Linked DNA regions of Homo sapiens. The protein of the gene in region 1 interacts with the protein of each later gene in a pairwise test. Each region holds a gene or a part of one and is shown on either strand. Other genes may lie near its edges.

The links.
Region 2: the proteins of ZNF385C (region 1) and PRR20C interact in a two-hybrid assay, tested with the Homo sapiens proteins (one large-scale study listed by BioGRID).
Region 3: the proteins of ZNF385C (region 1) and PRR20B interact in a two-hybrid assay, tested with the Homo sapiens proteins (one large-scale study listed by BioGRID).

Annotation. Positions count from the first base shown.
Region 1 is NC_000017.11:42,088,400-42,092,043, forward strand, and holds part of ZNF385C (zinc finger protein 385C), read right to left. Parts: intron 1-3,644.
Region 2 is NC_000013.11:57,152,771-57,156,915, reverse strand, and holds the start of PRR20C (proline-rich protein 20C), read right to left. Parts: upstream 2,856-4,145; 5' UTR 2,642-2,855; intron 2,488-2,641; 5' UTR 2,469-2,487; coding exon 2,417-2,468; intron 1,396-2,416; coding exon 782-1,395; 3' UTR 1-781.
Region 3 is NC_000013.11:57,145,986-57,150,403, reverse strand, and holds the start of PRR20B (proline-rich protein 20B), read right to left. Parts: upstream 2,917-4,418; 5' UTR 2,703-2,916; intron 2,549-2,702; 5' UTR 2,530-2,548; coding exon 2,478-2,529; intron 1,457-2,477; coding exon 843-1,456; 3' UTR 1-842.

The DNA.
Region 1 (3,644 bases):
GAGGCCCCTTTGTCTCCCTGCCCAGTGTCACACCCAGAGGGCGGAGCACCGCCGGACAAGCGCCCTGTGTCTGGGTCTGTTTCACCGCCAGGTCTGCGGCCGCCTGGGCGGCTCCAGCCACGGGACTCGAGGTAGGTGGATCCCAGGGCCATTCCCATCCCTTCCATCCCCCACCCCAACCTCAGCAGGGCATCCCTGACTCTCCCTCAGTGCAAAGAAGGAGAAACCTCCAAGGGAAACGCCCCAGTTCTTGGTCTCGACTCTGTACAAACTCCAAGTGGCCAGAGCCTGGGTGTTGGGGGGAAGAGCTCCAAGCTGCCTCAAATACCAGAAGCAGGGAGCTAAGGGTGTGGGAATGGCAGCAAGGGCATTCTGCATGTTGCAGGAGGGCTGCGGTGGGATCCTGGGGAGTGGGACAGAGATTACCCTGCCCTTTTTTACCCCATACTCTATCTGTAACCCGTCACCCAGGCTGGAGTGCAGTGGTGCGATCACAGCTCACTGCACCCTCGACCTCCTGGCCTCAAGCGATCCTCCCGCCTTGGCCTCTCAACACACTGGGACTACAGGCACACGCATCACCATGCCTGGCCCGGTTCACTTCTCTTTACCACCTGGATTGGCAGAACAGCCACCTCACTGGTCTCCCTGCCTCTACTTCCCCACTTCCTCTCCCTCCCAGTCCCATCTTCACACAGCCAGAGGGAGACTATTAAAAGGGCAACTCTCCAGCCTGGGCAACTCCATCTCTACAAAAAATACAAAAATTAGCTGGGTGTGGTGGTGCACACCTATAGTCCCAGCTACTCAGGAGGCTGAGGTGGGAGGATAGCTTGAACCTGGGAGGTCGAGGCTGCAGTGAGCCGTGATCACACCACCACACTCCAGCCTAGGGGACAGAATAAGACCCTGTCTCTAAATAAATAAATAAATAAATAAATAAAAATAAAGGCAAATCTGATCAAGTCATGCTCTGGGATAAAAGCTCTAAAGGCTTCACCCTTTGCTTTAGGAGAATGCTTGCCCCAGCCTGGAAGATCCGGGCCTTTCCCCTCCCCCAAGCCCTTCTCTCCCAGTCCACCCCTTCCACCTGATTCCTCCCACAGATCAACTGAGATATAAATACAACTCTCCACCTAAAAATATTACGGGTAGAAGTAACACTGAGGATGGCTAGAAATGGATATAAGAAAACTCATTATTGACTAAAATGCACAAAAGAATCAAATCTTGACCACGAATCTTTTTTTTTGGTTTTAATTTAAATCTTCCAAAATGGAATGGGGTTACCCAGTCAATCACACAATGGCAGAAACTCGTGTCAAGAGCCTGCAGCCCCCACACTGATGGATGCCTCCAATCTCAGCAGCAGAATGTGTACGGAATCGATGCCGATGAAAACAGTTTCAGTAAAATTACAAAAGAATGAAAAACATGGACATTTGTTTAACTGTACTACAGGGGAAAAACAAAAATCTGATCAAAGAATTAAGTTGGATGAATAGAGTTCAAGCTGGAGAACACCTTCTTAAAACATTTTCAGGGTTAGTATGTTTTGGTTTAAAATGTTTGCATTCAAAACATCCTTCGGGTCAAAATATCCGTAGTGGTTAAAATATCCTGTGTCCCTCTGATCTGTTTCCTATAACTCCCCACCTTCCAGCCACACTGGGCTCTTTCTGTCCCTGGAGCACAGCGAGTTTCCCCTCACTTGGGAGCTTTCTCAAAGCCTGTTCTCTCTGCCTTGAGTGCTCTTTTCCTTCTGACCCCTCCCTCCTCCTTCTCATGGCTGATATTTAACTATCACCTCTGAAAGACGCCTTCCTGCATTGCTCTCTCTAGGGTAGTTTTCCTTCCTTCCCATTTCCTCTTATTCCCTTTTTTTTTTTTTTTTTTTTTTTTTTTGAGATGGAGTCTCGTTCTGTCGCCCAGGCTGGAGTGCAATTGCGCGATCTCGGCTCACTGCAACCTCCACCTCCCAGGTTCAAGCGATTCTCCTGCTTCAGCCTCCCGAGTAGCTGGGATTACAGGCTTGCGCCATCACGCACTAATTTTTGTATTTTTAATTAGTGATGGGTTTTCACCATGTTGGCCAGGCTGGTCTCGAACTCCTGACCCCAAGTGATCCACCCACCTTGGTCTCCCAAAGTGCTGGGATTACAGACGTGAGCCACCACACCCAGCCTCTTATTCCCTCTTGAGAACCTATCTTAGGCTGGGCACGGTGGCTCACGCCTGTAATCCCAGCACTTTGGGAAGCAGAGGCGGGCGGATCACGAGGTCAGGAGATCGAGACCATGGTGAAACCCCATCTCTACTAAAAATACAAAAAATTAGCTGGGCACAGTGGTGGGCACCTGTAGTCCCAGCTACTCGGGAGGCTGAGGCAGGAGAATGGCGTGAACCCGGAAGGCGGAGCTTGCAGTGAGCCGAGATCCTGCCACTGCACTCCAGCCTGGGCGACAGAGCGAGACTCCGTCTCAAAAAAAAGAGAACCTATCTTGTTCCCTCTTGGAACCCTGTCTTGTTCCTCCTGAATTCCCAGGGCAGAGGCTAGCAAGTATAACACATAGTAGGTGCTCCATAAATATTGGTTAAATGAATGAGTAAATCAGTGTCACTGGGATGAGAGCTAGGACAGTAGGCTGGGGCTTGGGGGTAGGGGCTGGGACAGGGTAGAGACACACCCACTTATGACATCAAGTTCCAAGGAAGCCCATTTCAGTGGGAGAACAAAGAGAAGACTGGCTGCGCATGGTGGCATTACAGGCATGAGCCTGTAATCCTAGCACTTTGGGAGGCTGAGGCAGGAGGATCGCTTGAGCCCAGGAGTTTGAAACCAATCTGGGCAACAGAGGGAGACCCCTGTCTCTACAGAAAATGTAACAAAATTATCCAGGTGTGTGCCTGTAGTCCCAGCTATTCGTGAGGCTCTGGACTGAGGGCTGGGGTGGGAGGATTGCTTGGGCCTGGGAGGCGGAGGCTGCGGTGAGCTGTTATCGCACCACTGTACTCCAGCCTGGGTGGCAGAGCGAGACTTCATCTCAAACAAAAAAGAAAAGAGGATACAAAACCAGTCCTGCTCCTGATTTTTGCCCTATGCCCAGCTTCCCAAGGGTCAGGCCCATGTGCCAAATGGACAGCTCCCCCTCCACCCCTTCATCTAGGCCACCTTCTTGGGGCTTGGCTCCCACGTGTGGCTTCAGGCCAGGCTATTTGGGGAAACTTCCTGATCCCCCCTCTGGCCTCTCCACCCCCACACCTCATCTTGCAGACCCAGAATAGCTGTCCCCAGTCTCAACCTAGGGAGAGTCTCATTCCCAATTAGCACCCAGAGGGTTGAAACCATCTCTAAAAGCTTCTTGTGTCCCTCTCCCCTCAGGAAGCTGCTAACTAGGACAGCAAATTTCAGAATAAGGTCACAAGAATGCTACCTGCCCCTATATTCACCTCCCAGCCAGAGACTCAGGGACCAGGAGTCTTGGTGTGTGAAGGTAGAGGAGCTTTGGGTGAGGGGGAGATTCAGGAAGAGCCAGGGGTGACTGCAGCCTGTGACTCTTTTAATCAAAGGAGCAGCTCCAGCATGGTCTGGCAAGGAGCCCTGGCTGTGAGGGGTGAGGAGACCCAGGTTCCAGTCCAGGTTC
Region 2 (4,145 bases), on another chromosome or scaffold:
AGCCAACATCTTGGTTAATGGTGAAACATTCAAAATATTCCCATTAAAGCCAGGAGGAAGCCAAGGACACTGCCGTCAAATTACTGATTCCTGGTTTAGCGGTTCCAGTGAGTCATGCACTCTCCTTGCTTCCGTTAACCGCCCCCCCCCCCACCCCAACACCTTTTGTCTGATTCGTCACATGTCCTTTGATCCCCTTTTTCCTCAATCTGTTTGAAATTTTACCTTCTATTCCAATTCATTTAGTGGTTCCCAAAGGGTACCCACGTTGAGACTTAAAAATGTGTCAGTCTAGATTTTTATTGCTCTTATATTCAGCCAGTCTATCGTCTCCAGGCACTAGAGAAGCACTTTAGTAACTTCTAGCTCCTTCTGAGTTTTCGCATGTCCCACATGTCTATATGAGTGTCTTCTGGAATTTTAATTCTAGGTCATCAATCCTTTTTCCAGAATCGTACTTCTCTGGACTTAAGAATACAGTTTCCTAATTTCCATGCTTAGTGATCCTTGTTGCATCCCACTTCTTCCAGGTTGTCTGGGTTGGCTTCTTCTTGGCTGAAAAACGTGACGTGTACTTTCACTGTACATGACAGTTCCATTCCAATCGCCTTGTACAGAAAGGGTGTTTGGCAGCTTGCATGTTGTAAGTTGCGTACTCCAAGTTCAGGGGAAGCTCAGGCTTCAGGTCCAGTCGGGGGAGGAGTGGAGCAGAAGTGGGGCTGGGGGGAACGTCCAGGTGGAAGGAAGGGAGGCTGGGAACAACGTGGGTGGCAGATAGTGGTCAATACGCAATGTCGGTGAGGAACACTGGGACCCCTTGCACGTAGGTGCCCTGGGGGGTTTGAATGACTTGTAAAACCGCTGAGTCACCCAGAGCCCTAAACCCGATGCAGGGATAGAGGGTCAAGACGGGTTGCCAGTCAACAGCCTGAGGCCCAGGAGCAGCGGGCGGCTCCTGAAACCCCAGCTCAGGTTGCGCCACGTCGGGGCCAGGGCCTTCCTGCACAGTTCCAGGCGGAGGACCTGTTTCAGAAAGGGAGAAGGCTGCGGTCTCCGTGATTTCCGGTTCCCCCTGGTGGCCTGGCTCTCCATGGTGGTCCAGTTGGATGTGCACGTCCGGTGCCATCAAGCCTTCTGCCCCCTGTCTCTGGCCAGCGTCCCCGCGGGGCCCAGCCCTTCTGCCACGGCCTCGCCCTGGCCGCCGGCTTCCTCCCCGGCGCCGGCCTCTCTCTGCAGGAGGGGGTGACTCTGGGCGAGCTGGGGGCTGCCGTCTGAAGGGTTTCACGTAAGCGATGGGTTTTGCGGGTTGGGCTGGCTGTGCGGGCCCATCTGCTTCCACGGAGCCTTCAGGGTCCGCAACACAGCAGCCTGGCTCTGGAGGAGGCCCACCTGAGGCTAAAAGAGAAGCGGAGCGTGAGCAGAGAGAGACAGAAGGAACTTCACCCGTCAAGCAGTTATAGGATACTTTTACAAATAAATACTCAGAGAAAAGAGGGATTTCTGAAGTTAAAATTGTGAGAGAAGAAACAAAACTCTCCACGGAAGTTGGAGAATGAAGTTGAGAAGGTCTCCCACAGAACAAAGCAAAAACCTAAAATGATGGAAAGAAGGATGAAATATAAGAGAATTAGAGGTATGCTGTGGCTGAGACATTTCACCAGAAAATTTCAGAGTGCTGAGGAAAAAGAGAAGATTCTAACAGATTCTAGAGAGCGGGAGACAGAGAAAGGAAAAGTCACATGGAAAGGGCTAGGATTCCACATGTCTCAAAAGTCAGACATCTCAAAAGCAGCAGTTCAGTCTAGAACATAACAGAAAATGTCTTCGAAATTTCAAGGGAAATGAATTTCCCACCTAAAATTTCCTGTCCAACCGAAGTTTCGCTGAAGAATCTGGGAGGGGAGAATGAAGATGTTTCAGACAAGCAAGATGTTAAAGAATTTCCTTTCAGTGGATGCTTTATTGTTATGCATCTGTCAAACTAGACAAGATTAAAAGATTTAGGACACTCAGCGTATGAAGGGAAAAGTTTTGGAGAACAACGTGGCAACAGCCGGAAAATTCCAACTCCTCCGGGAAAGAACAAGGTGGAAGTACCGGTTTATCATAGATCAAGACGTAGCGTGAGGACTCGCTCTGCTACGGAGAAACAGTAATACAAAACTAAACAGAAGGAAACAGCGACAACAACAGCAAATCTCAGATTTGGGAAATGGGATTACGGTTCGGAAGAGGGAAAGGAATTTCCCAGATGATGTGGAACCCGGGAGCTGACTTCCAACAAGCAGCCCAGGTTGAGGCAGGCTAGGAGAAGGTGAAACAGAGAATGCTTGATTGAGTTTGAGTGTCAACCATTGGGGAAGAATTGGGGAACAGACGAAATTAAAAAGAGAGGAGTGGCAGGCGTTTGATGTACCTTGATTAGGGGCCATGGAGCGAAGTCGCTTCGAAGGCCTTGGTTCCTCCATGAGCAATCGGCGGGAGGGGCTGGGGAGAAAAACAAGAGAGCAAGAACGGATTTAGGAAGACAGAGGTGACAAGGCAGGGGGATGGCCGTGGCCTTTCTAGGGGAATGAGGATTCTGTCCCCAACTGCACCCACCCGAGATCCGTCCACGCCTCCGGGACCCCCAGACACACACCTGATCTTCCCACAGCTGGCTCCGGAGATCTGAAAATTAGGAGACTCTTCGACGAAGAGAGGCCCGAGGAGTCGGAGGTGTCCACAGGTTCACCGCTGTAGCTCTGAGGTAGTCCACCCGCAGCCAGGGAGTCTGGAGGGAGCACGCAGCAGGTTCTGGCTCCGAGCCCAGCAGAAAGCCGACTGCTGGAGGCCGAGCGCCGTCCCTCTTATATGGCAGCAAGGCAGTCGCGTAAGGGACAGGCGTCGTCAGAGGGGGGCCGGCTGGGGCGGGCCTGGCTGGGCTTGCGAGGCGCATTGGGCCAGTCCCCTGCCAGTCAAATGGGGGCCCTTCTGAGATGCCGCCATTTCTAGACGTCCGTGGTTGATTGATTAATCTAATCATCGAGGAAAAAAAATTGCATAATGACCTCTGAGTGTCAGCACAATGAGGTGTGGTGCCCTGAAAGCGGCTGACAGGAAGATGCGATTAGCTTAGATCTGAGCATGGTCAAGGAAAGCATCCAAAGCGGGGATATCTGGGCTGAAATCTGGAACATAACGTTTGAAATTAGTCATCCTGAACCGGGTTGGGAGAGGCAGGGAGGGAGGAAGGGGAGTGAAGAGAGTGTGCTGAGGCCCGGACTGGAAGGGAGCCCGGCACATTCTGGGAATGGACGGGAGGCCAAGTCCAGGCCCGGAGGTGGTGCGAGGTGGAGGCAGGGTCCGCGCAGGAGCTGGTCTTGTTCCAAGGCAGCGGAAAACCGTGGAACGGTGTCCGGCAGCGGGTTAACATTTCAGAAACGACCAGCCTGGCTGTGAAGGAGCGCCAACCCAGGGTCCGCAGAATAAGTCAGGAGAGGCAAGAAGGCTATTGCAGCCCTCGGGGTTGGGCGCAGGGTGCTGTTAGACTGAGACTCAGGGAGGTAGAGGAGGAGAAAGTTCCCTGGTGGGAGAGAAATTTCCAAGAGAAAGCGAGACCCAGTGTGGACAGCCCTTGAGGAAGAGACTGCGGCCTTGGTAGCCCGCCGGTTCATTCAGGCAGAGGTGGACCGAGAACCTGCTCTGAACGGGAAGTTGCGGAGCTTGGCTTGCGCACATCTGGTTGAAGGGGCTTTTGAACTGCCAAGTGAGGATGTCAAGTGGCCTTTTGTAAAAAGAGTCGAGCTCAGCGCGATGGCGACGGGGCTGGAGATGCGTGTGAGACCCACACCGCTGGCTTTTATTGCTGTGGGTGCACTCACGGGTGGAGGAAGACAGCGGGAAACACAGCAGGACGCTGGAGGGGATCCCACAGTGGGTTATTTGGTTGGTTTGCATCCTTGTGTCTTTTACAGAGACGGGTTCTCGCTCTGTAGCCCAGGCTGGAGTGCAGCGGTGCCATCTCGGCTCGCTGCGGCTACTTGGGGGGGGGGGGGGGGGGGGCGGGGCGGGCTGAGATAGGAGAATCAGTTCAAGTGATTCTCCTGTCTCGGCCTCCGGAGTAGCTGGACTACAGGTGAGCGCCACCACATCGGGATAATTTT
Region 3 (4,418 bases), on another chromosome or scaffold:
CATTTATCAAACTCTGAAAAGATGGGAACTAACTCAACTTAAACATCTAAGAGACACCTACAGCCAACATCTTGGTTAATGGTGAAACATTCAAAATATTCCCATTAAAGCCAGGAGGAAGCCAAGGACACTGCCGTCAAATTACTGATTCCTGGTTTAGCGGTTCCAGTGAGTCATGCACTCTCCTTGCTTCCGTTAACCGCCCCCCCCCCCACCCCAACACCTTTTGTCTGATTCGTCACATGTCCTTTGATCCCCTTTTTCCTCAATCTGTTTGAAATTTTACCTTCTATTCCAATTCATTTAGTGGTTCCCAAAGGGTACCCACGTTGAGACTTAAAAATGTGTCAGTCTAGATTTTTATTGCTCTTATATTCAGCCAGTCTATCGTCTCCAGGCACTAGAGAAGCACTTTAGTAACTTCTAGCTCCTTCTGAGTTTTCGCATGTCCCACATGTCTATATGAGTGTCTTCTGGAATTTTAATTCTAGGTCATCAATCCTTTTTCCAGAATCGTACTTCTCTGGACTTAAGAATACAGTTTCCTAATTTCCATGCTTAGTGATCCTTGTTGCATCCCACTTCTTCCAGGTTGTCTGGGTTGGCTTCTTCTTGGCTGAAAAACGTGACGTGTACTTTCACTGTACATGACAGTTCCATTCCAATCGCCTTGTACAGAAAGGGTGTTTGGCAGCTTGCATGTTGTAAGTTGCGTACTCCAAGTTCAGGGGAAGCTCAGGCTTCAGGTCCAGTCGGGGGAGGAGTGGAGCAGAAGTGGGGCTGGGGGGAACGTCCAGGTGGAAGGAAGGGAGGCTGGGAACAACGTGGGTGGCAGATAGTGGTCAATACGCAATGTCGGTGAGGAACACTGGGACCCCTTGCACGTAGGTGCCCTGGGGGGTTTGAATGACTTGTAAAACCGCTGAGTCACCCAGAGCCCTAAACCCGATGCAGGGATAGAGGGTCAAGACGGGTTGCCAGTCAACAGCCTGAGGCCCAGGAGCAGCGGGCGGCTCCTGAAACCCCAGCTCAGGTTGCGCCACGTCGGGGCCAGGGCCTTCCTGCACAGTTCCAGGCGGAGGACCTGTTTCAGAAAGGGAGAAGGCTGCGGTCTCCGTGATTTCCGGTTCCCCCTGGTGGCCTGGCTCTCCATGGTGGTCCAGTTGGATGTGCACGTCCGGTGCCATCAAGCCTTCTGCCCCCTGTCTCTGGCCAGCGTCCCCGCGGGGCCCAGCCCTTCTGCCACGGCCTCGCCCTGGCCGCCGGCTTCCTCCCCGGCGCCGGCCTCTCTCTGCAGGAGGGGGTGACTCTGGGCGAGCTGGGGGCTGCCGTCTGAAGGGTTTCACGTAAGCGATGGGTTTTGCGGGTTGGGCTGGCTGTGCGGGCCCATCTGCTTCCACGGAGCCTTCAGGGTCCGCAACACAGCAGCCTGGCTCTGGAGGAGGCCCACCTGAGGCTAAAAGAGAAGCGGAGCGTGAGCAGAGAGAGACAGAAGGAACTTCACCCGTCAAGCAGTTATAGGATACTTTTACAAATAAATACTCAGAGAAAAGAGGGATTTCTGAAGTTAAAATTGTGAGAGAAGAAACAAAACTCTCCACGGAAGTTGGAGAATGAAGTTGAGAAGGTCTCCCACAGAACAAAGCAAAAACCTAAAATGATGGAAAGAAGGATGAAATATAAGAGAATTAGAGGTATGCTGTGGCTGAGACATTTCACCAGAAAATTTCAGAGTGCTGAGGAAAAAGAGAAGATTCTAACAGATTCTAGAGAGCGGGAGACAGAGAAAGGAAAAGTCACATGGAAAGGGCTAGGATTCCACATGTCTCAAAAGTCAGACATCTCAAAAGCAGCAGTTCAGTCTAGAACATAACAGAAAATGTCTTCGAAATTTCAAGGGAAATGAATTTCCCACCTAAAATTTCCTGTCCAACCGAAGTTTCGCTGAAGAATCTGGGAGGGGAGAATGAAGATGTTTCAGACAAGCAAGATGTTAAAGAATTTCCTTTCAGTGGATGCTTTATTGTTATGCATCTGTCAAACTAGACAAGATTAAAAGATTTAGGACACTCAGCGTATGAAGGGAAATGTTTTGGAGAACAACGTGGCAACAGCCGGAAAATTCCAACTCCTCCGGGAAAGAACAAGGTGGAAGTACCGGTTTATCATAGATCAAGACGTAGCGTGAGGACTCGCTCTGCTACGGAGAAACAGTAATACAAAACTAAACAGAAGGAAACAGCGACAACAACAGCAAATCTCAGATTTGGGAAATGGGATTACGGTTCGGAAGAGGGAAAGGAATTTCCCAGATGATGTGGAACCCGGGAGCTGACTTCCAACAAGCAGCCCAGGTTGAGGCAGGCTAGGAGAAGGTGAAACAGAGAATGCTTGATTGAGTTTGAGTGTCAACCATTGGGGAAGAATTGGGGAACAGACGAAATTAAAAAGAGAGGAGTGGCAGGCGTTTGATGTACCTTGATTAGGGGCCATGGAGCGAAGTCGCTTCGAAGGCCTTGGTTCCTCCATGAGCAATCGGCGGGAGGGGCTGGGGAGAAAAACAAGAGAGCAAGAACGGATTTAGGAAGACAGAGGTGACAAGGCAGGGGGATGGCCGTGGCCTTTCTAGGGGAATGAGGATTCTGTCCCCAACTGCACCCACCCGAGATCCGTCCACGCCTCCGGGACCCCCAGACACACACCTGATCTTCCCACAGCTGGCTCCGGAGATCTGAAAATTAGGAGACTCTTCGACGAAGAGAGGCCCGAGGAGTCGGAGGTGTCCACAGGTTCACCGCTGTAGCTCTGAGGTAGTCCACCCGCAGCCAGGGAGTCTGGAGGGAGCACGCAGCAGGTTCTGGCTCCGAGCCCAGCAGAAAGCCGACTGCTGGAGGCCGAGCGCCGTCCCTCTTATATGGCAGCAAGGCAGTCGCGTAAGGGACAGGCGTCGTCAGAGGGGGGCCGGCTGGGGCGGGCCTGGCTGGGCTTGCGAGGCGCATTGGGCCAGTCCCCTGCCAGTCAAATGGGGGCCCTTCTGAGATGCCGCCATTTCTAGACGTCCGTGGTTGATTGATTAATCTAATCATCGAGGAAAAAAAATTGCATAATGACCTCTGAGTGTCAGCACAATGAGGTGTGGTGCCCTGAAAGCGGCTGACAGGAAGATGCGATTAGCTTAGATCTGAGCATGGTCAAGGAAAGCATCCAAAGCGGGGATATCTGGGCTGAAATCTGGAACATAACGTTTGAAATTAGTCATCCTGAACCGGGTTGGGAGAGGCAGGGAGGGAGGAAGGGGAGTGAAGAGAGTGTGCTGAGGCCCGGACTGGAAGGGAGCCCGGCACATTCTGGGAATGGACGGGAGGCCAAGTCCAGGCCCGGAGGTGGTGCGAGGTGGAGGCAGGGTCCGCGCAGGAGCTGGTCTTGTTCCAAGGCAGCGGAAAACCGTGGAACGGTGTCCGGCAGCGGGTTAACATTTCAGAAACGACCAGCCTGGCTGTGAAGGAGCGCCAACCCAGGGTCCGCAGAATAAGTCAGGAGAGGCAAGAAGGCTATTGCAGCCCTCGGGGTTGGGCGCAGGGTGCTGTTAGACTGAGACTCAGGGAGGTAGAGGAGGAGAAAGTTCCCTGGTGGGAGAGAAATTTCCAAGAGAAAGCGAGACCCAGTGTGGACAGCCCTTGAGGAAGAGACTGCGGCCTTGGTAGCCCGCCGGTTCATTCAGGCAGAGGTGGACCGAGAACCTGCTCTGAACGGGAAGTTGCGGAGCTTGGCTTGCGCACATCTGGTTGAAGGGGCTTTTGAACTGCCAAGTGAGGATGTCAAGTGGCCTTTTGTAAAAAGAGTCGAGCTCAGCGCGATGGCGACGGGGCTGGAGATGCGTGTGAGACCCACACCGCTGGCTTTTATTGCTGTGGGTGCACTCACGGGTGGAGGAAGACAGCGGGAAACACAGCAGGACGCTGGAGGGGATCCCACAGTGGGTTATTTGGTTGGTTTGCATCCTTGTGTCTTTTACAGAGACGGGTTCTCGCTCTGTAGCCCAGGCTGGAGTGCAGCGGTGCCATCTCGGCTCGCTGCGGCTACTTGGGGTGGGGCGGGGGGGGGGGGGGGGCTGAGATAGGAGAATCAGTTCAAGTGATTCTCCTGTCTCGGCCTCCGGAGTAGCTGGACTACAGGTGAGCGCCACCACATCGGGATAATTTTCGGATTTTTTTGGAGAGACGAGGTTTCGCTATGTGCCCAGGCTTGTTTGGAAGGCCTGAGCTCAAGCCGTCCGTCCCGCTCAACCTCCCGAGTCGCTGGGACCCCAGGCGCAAGCCACCATGCCCGGCCAATTATTTTTTTGGGTTGTATTTCCTGTTGAAGTGAGGTTTTGCTATGCTTTCACCTCACATACCTTTTCTGTCCCAAGACCCCAT